Regions from separate parts of the Homo sapiens genome. Here region 2 is linked to region 1. Evidence: fine-mapped expression QTL. A gene starts in region 1. The other region holds a variant in brackets. All regions are shown on one strand. Distances are between the middles of the regions.

Evidence for each region. PIP is the estimated chance that this variant, and not a neighbour inherited with it, causes the effect.
Region 2: its variant is the best candidate, but not a certain one, in a credible set for the expression of BTF3 in thyroid (GTEx, PIP 0.86).

Annotation. Positions count from the first base shown.
Region 1 is chr5:73,496,958-73,499,867 of GRCh38, forward strand. It overlaps BTF3 (basic transcription factor 3), which reads left to right and starts at 1,485. Exons shown (of 6, transcript NM_001037637.2): 1 at 1,485-1,842; 2 at 2,177-2,245. The coding sequence starts at 1,711. It overlaps BTF3-DT (BTF3 divergent transcript), which reads right to left and starts at 1,363. Exons shown (of 1, transcript NR_186388.1): 1 at 596-1,363. RefSeq lists enhancers at 1,320-1,379, 1,410-1,709, 1,473-2,283 and a silencer at 1,920-1,969.
Region 2 is chr5:73,459,402-73,462,311 of GRCh38, forward strand. LINC01386 (long intergenic non-protein coding RNA 1386) reads right to left here. Exons shown (of 5, transcript NR_126410.1): 4 at 2,132-2,224. Among named protein-coding and RNA genes, the nearest start is that of FOXD1, 12 kb to the left of the region's middle. The variant T/C (reference allele first, on the strand shown) is at 1,231.

The sequences.
Region 1 (2,910 bases):
TATTAAAAGGGCAGAGGAGAGGGAAGGCAAAGAAAAAGAAAAAAAAGGTGGCAGGTTACATACATACAATCTTGTCTCTATAAAAGCTCAGAAAACATCACGTGACTAGGAAGTTTCAAATGCCTCCAATATAACATGGAGGAGAGGAAAAAAACTGTTCCTGGACAAAGATACACATTTCTTCCAAAAGGGGGAGTCTTTCTATATATTTTGTAATATCTCCAGAGCACAGCATAATGTTGGTACTGCCATTTTGGCCTTTGTCATTAGGAAGGTAACCCACATAAGCCTAACTACAAACACCCTTACCTGTACTAAAACTTCACTCATATTTAACTGAAGCAACATTGTTTTTTGTAAATATAACTGTAACAATTATTCTAAAAGGCAATACAGCTGTCCTCACCAGTTATGTTCTTGAGACATCAGTTGCAACAAACTTATATGTAAAAAGTATTCAAAAAGTTTAAACATTGATCTTAACTGGAGAGGGGTCTGCACTTGAACAAGTTTTCTTGCTACACACATTGCATTCTAAGATTTCGGACTCACTTTTGAATATGCAAAGACATTTCATGGTTAAGACCACAAAAAGGCTGATCAGAGAACATTTTTATTTAAATTGCCATTTTAAATATCAGTCGTTTTATCTTAAAGCTTGTCCTGGGTTTAACAAAGTTTAACTCACATCCACGCGTTGTCTCTCCAAACACAGCAGGCAGAAATTCTCCTTTGATTGGATTAAGATAGATAAAGTCTGCTTAACCGTGAATCGCTAATTGTCAAATCCATGCCAATTCGGTACCTAGGAGTCAATTTTTTTGCCTGATAAACAAGATAATTGTGTGGACCGTTTTAAGGTGGTTAGTCATCTGCTAAATTGGCTGAAATGCGGATTACCCAGTTCCTTCGTCGTACAGAGTTGCATTCTGAGGAGTGGGGCTCGGGGATACAGCCCCCAGAAATTCTGAACCTCGGTCCCGCAATCTACCACACCACCTAACCTTGGAAGGCCAAACTAACTTCACTATTTTTGACAAAATGCTTTGGTAATGGCTCATTCGGGCCGAGAGGGAAATTCTGCAATTCTCCAACCCACACCTCCAGCAAGGGGAGAGCTGCTTGAGTGGTGAGCACAAGCTGGGCACCTCCGGCGTCTCCAGGAAACGTGAATAGGCCCTTTCTTCGGAGGGCACAGAACTTCAGGATCAGGGCCCAATGGAGACTGAGCGGACTTAACCCTAACTGTGCACAGGACCGCGCTCTCCGACCCCTTTGTGGCCTCTCCCAGAGGTACGGGCTGCGCCCCAAGCCAGCAGTCTCTCGTAGGGCCTACAGCCGGCAGCCGCTGGAGCAGGAGGAGGAGAATAGGGACTCGCTGGACCATCACAAACGCTGTCGCGCGTGCGCAGGGAGGAACCGAGTTCGCGGCGAAGTCAGTTTCCTGACTCTTGAAGGAAGTGGCCTTGTGTCACTTCCGGCCTCCCTTTAGCTGCCATCTTGCGTCCCCGCGTGTGTGCGCCTAATCTCAGGTGGTCCACCCGAGACCCCTTGAGCACCAACCCTAGTCCCCCGCGCGGCCCCTTATTCGCTCCGACAAGGTACAAAAAGGCTCTGGACGGCGGCGTGGTAGGAGGACGGGAGCGGGGGCGGGAAGTTCCCTGAAGGAGCGAGACAGGGAGGGACAGGGCAGAGGAGGAGAGGAAGGCGATGCGACGGACAGGCGCACCCGCTCAGGCTGACTCTCGGGGGCGAGGTCGAGCCAGGGGCGGCTGCCCTGGGGGCGAGGCGACGCTGTCTCAACCTCCACCTCGCGGCGGAACCCGAGGACAGGAGCCTCAGGTACCGCGAGGCTTGCGGAGAGTGGCCGGGCCGGGCAGGCCCTGGCTAGGCCGAGGCCAGGCCAGGGCCAGGGGTGGGGGGTGCTGGCCAGGCGTGGGGTAGAGCCTTTCATCCGGGCCTGCCAAGAGCGGGGAGCTGTGGGGGAGTGGTGGGGAGGCGGGTGCTCTTTGGGCTCCCTGGAAACCCAAATTTGGAGCTTTGCGGGGTGGATTTGGGATCCAGGTTTCGGCCTGTGTAGGACGTTTATTTTCCTGCTGGTATCTTGGGAAATAACGAGCATGGAATGCTAGAGTGAGCTAAACCTATCCTTGCTGAGGATTTCCTCTTTTTCTAGATGAAAGAAACAATCATGAACCAGGAAAAACTCGCCAAACTGCAGGCACAAGTGCGCATTGGTGGGAAAGTAAGTTTTAATAGTTCGGGTTTGTGGGTTTTTTTTTTAAGGTTTAGGTATTTTAAAAAACATATTCCTTTTGCGCTTCTTATATTATCGGTGACAAACTTTGCCTATCGAGGGAAATTCACGGAGCTAGCAAATCTCGAGGAGCGGGGGAGACGAGGGTTGGAGACACATCAGTGAGACGAGCTAAAAACATCGCCTTTGTGTAAACATGTTTGTGTTTTCAGTGTTACAGAGTGTAAGTAGAACACAAAAGTGTTTCCTAATTTAATTAGTAAGGAAAATGTGTCATTTCAGTTAGATCGTTGTGCACATCATACCCTTGACTTGTTTTGGCCTGAGTTTTCTAAAGTCAGTGCTTGTTTGTCTCTCTTGTAAATTGAGACCTTTCTGTACTGCTTTCTGAACTAAATATTCTTTAGGGTAGTTGCATATTTCAAGGGTATTTGAAGATACGGGTACATTTTGGAGTTTAAGAGCAGTGACTATTAGATTTGAAAATATAACCCAAGTAGGTATCTTTCCTGTTCTGACTTTGTATTACTGTAAAAATGAGGGAATTAAAGTGACTGATTTTTAAATGATCAGTTTTTGATTAATTGTTTTTTTCCTGGTGGATACTGATTCACATCAAGGGGATTCTTTTTTGAAGCTGATTTTTAGATTGT
Region 2 (2,910 bases), 38 kb before region 1:
GGGTTCAGTGGCATGATCATAGATCACTGCAGCCTCAGACTTCTGAGCTCAAGCAATCCTCCCACTTCAGCCTTCAAAGTAGGTGGGACTACAGGAATGTGCCATCACACTCGACTCATTTTCTTTTCTTTTTCTTTGTTTTTTTTTTTTTTTTTTTTTGTAAAGACAATGACTCACTATGTCTCCCAGACTGTGTTTTATATTTTTACAGTGAGCAAAAAAGCTCATATACCAACTGTCTGGTTCCAGACAAGACACCTGGAAAAATCTATGACTGACTCTTTCCCAAGGCAATTCAAGTCTGTGCTTCAAAAACCAGTGCTTTCTGCAAATCATTATTTTTGGCCCAAGGATTTGCTCTACTTTAAGATCCTTCGCTAATTTACTTATTTGTAGTAGACATTCGCTATTAGTTGCTGTAGTTCAACCTTGACCAATCTTGTCTTCACTCAGAGGAATTCGTGCCTGTTAGTTTTATTTTATGTGCAAAGTAGATTAAACATGTATTATTATCAAATTTTAGGAGAAACAAATGTTAATAAGTACTTGCTATAACAATAAATATGATTATGCTTTATTTATTGCCATTATTGTTACTACTTGAGATGAATCTTGTGCAAAATAAACTTTAAACCTGGGTGGGGCTCCCACCAAACCCAGAAAGGTATTGGTAACATCTTATTGCCCCAGTGCTTGCAGCAAATTTTCTGTAACATCAATCATTGAATAAAGATTACACAAAAGCCAATATCTTTTTGCCCTCTCTAAACCCTAAAAATTCCTTTTAAAAGTGAGTTGAAGAGACCCAGTTATCCTACAATCCAGTAGACTAATCTCCAATTGCCTTTGGAGTATTTATCACCCTTGCTGCTTCGACTTCCCTAGCCTCTTTTCACTGGTCAGCCTTCCCCCAAGTCCTGCTGCTCAGCTGGGATGCACACATCACCAGGCCAGGCTCACCACAGACCTACTGAATTAGAATCTCTACAGGTGGGGCTCAGGAATTTATTTTGCTTTGTTTGTTTTGTTGTTGTTGTTGCTTTTGGTTTTTTTGGAAGTTCCCCAGGTAATTTGGGTGATCATTTAAGTCTGATTACTACCAATCTGTGTGCTAAAATTCAAGTTCCTGAAGCTTAGCATAAAAAGGGCCTCACCTCTGCTTGACTCTACAATTGCATCTCCTACTATTTTGCACGTCATGATTACCTACCTGCAATATTGAACAACCAA[T/C]AGCTCACAACGCTAGACATACTGCCTCCCTCCTCTGGGCCCTTGCCTGGAACACCCTTTGCATACTTTGACTACTGAACAACTTATTTTCCTTCCAAAATTCAGCCCTAGTGTCTGCTTCCAGAAAGCCTTCCCTGATGACCTCACCTCCACCTGCTCTGAATTCCGACTGCACCTCGTTCCACAGCAGTCAGCACCCAGTGTGGAAATATATTAATGAAACCGCCTTTACAAAATTATGACTGAGACAGTGAAAGAAATCTAACTTAACCAACTCCATCTTGCTTCTAACCCCCAAGCTATCCTTGTTCATTCCTAGGTGTAGGCTTAACTAACTTTGGGAGAAGTTAGTAAGGGTAATAGCCCTTTCCCAAAGCAGTCCTCCTTCTTACCTGGGACTGGATTGCCTTTGTAGGACTAACATTAGCCACAAGATTAGAAATTATGGTTTAGGAGTCATGCAGCCGAAGGCTACAAGATTCTGACCCTCCCTAAACTGCTCCAAAGATCAGCGCTTGAGATATTTGGCAGACCCTGCACTTGATGGATCAGCTGGCCCCACACAGATCAATAAACTGGCTCATCTGATCTTGTGGCCTCCACCTAGGAACTGACTGAGCAAAAGAAGACAGCTCCAATTCCATATGATTCATCTCTGACCAATCAGCACTCCTGGCTCACTGGCTTCCTCTCACCCACCAAGTTATCCTTAAAAACTCTGCTTCCCAAATGCTTGGGGAAACTGATTTAAGTAATAATAAAACTCTGGTCTCCCCGCCGGCTGGCTCTGTGTGAATTACTCTTTTTCTATTGCAATTCCCCTGTCTTAAGGAATTGGCTCTGTCTAGGCAGCAGGCAAGGTAAACCTCTTGGGCAGTTACATTAATACTTGCTCACCTACCTATCTCCTCTGCTAAAGTGTGATCTATTTGAAGGCAGGCTCCATGTCATCTTCACCTCAGCATTCTCAAAACCTAACCCAGTGATACAGGAGCTAGAATGAAATTATTTAGGCAGTTAGTGAGGGTAAAAGAGTCCTCGGCAAGATTTCCCTTTTAATAAAAAGCAGTCCCCAAATCATTTATTTTCTAACAAAGGGCAGCTGCAGACATAGATAAGCAAGCTGAAAGCTTGCATGGGTGAATGCCAGCAGCTGTGCCAGTAAGAAAAGGCTACCTGGGGGCCAGGCATGTTCAACATGGAGACTCCATCTTCTCTTTTCTTTGTCAACCACATGTGCAATAAAGAAGCAGGCAACATGGCGCTGGCCAAGTAGAGAACCCATTCAAATAATATAGATTACGGTGGGGTGGCCAGCTTCTTTGCCCGCTATGTAAATGGCACACCTGGTCCAACCAATCTTTTGGGCCCTATGTAAATCAGATACTGCCTCCTCAAGAGTTTTTCTCTTTCTTTTGCCTGTTAAACCTCTGCTCTTAACCTCACTCCTTGTGTGTCCACATCCTTGATTTCCTTGGCATAAGGCAACAAACCTCAGGTATTACCCCAGACAAATGATGCCACTTCATCAGGGCTGGATTGAATTAGAATAAACTGGTTTTATGGGAATATGCAGTGTGGTCCTTTATCAAGCAGTTTAAGTCTCCTTTGTAAGAGCCATTGGATATTATTGTACTCAACCAGGCTGCTGAGTGTTTTGTTACTCTGCAGGCCCTGAAG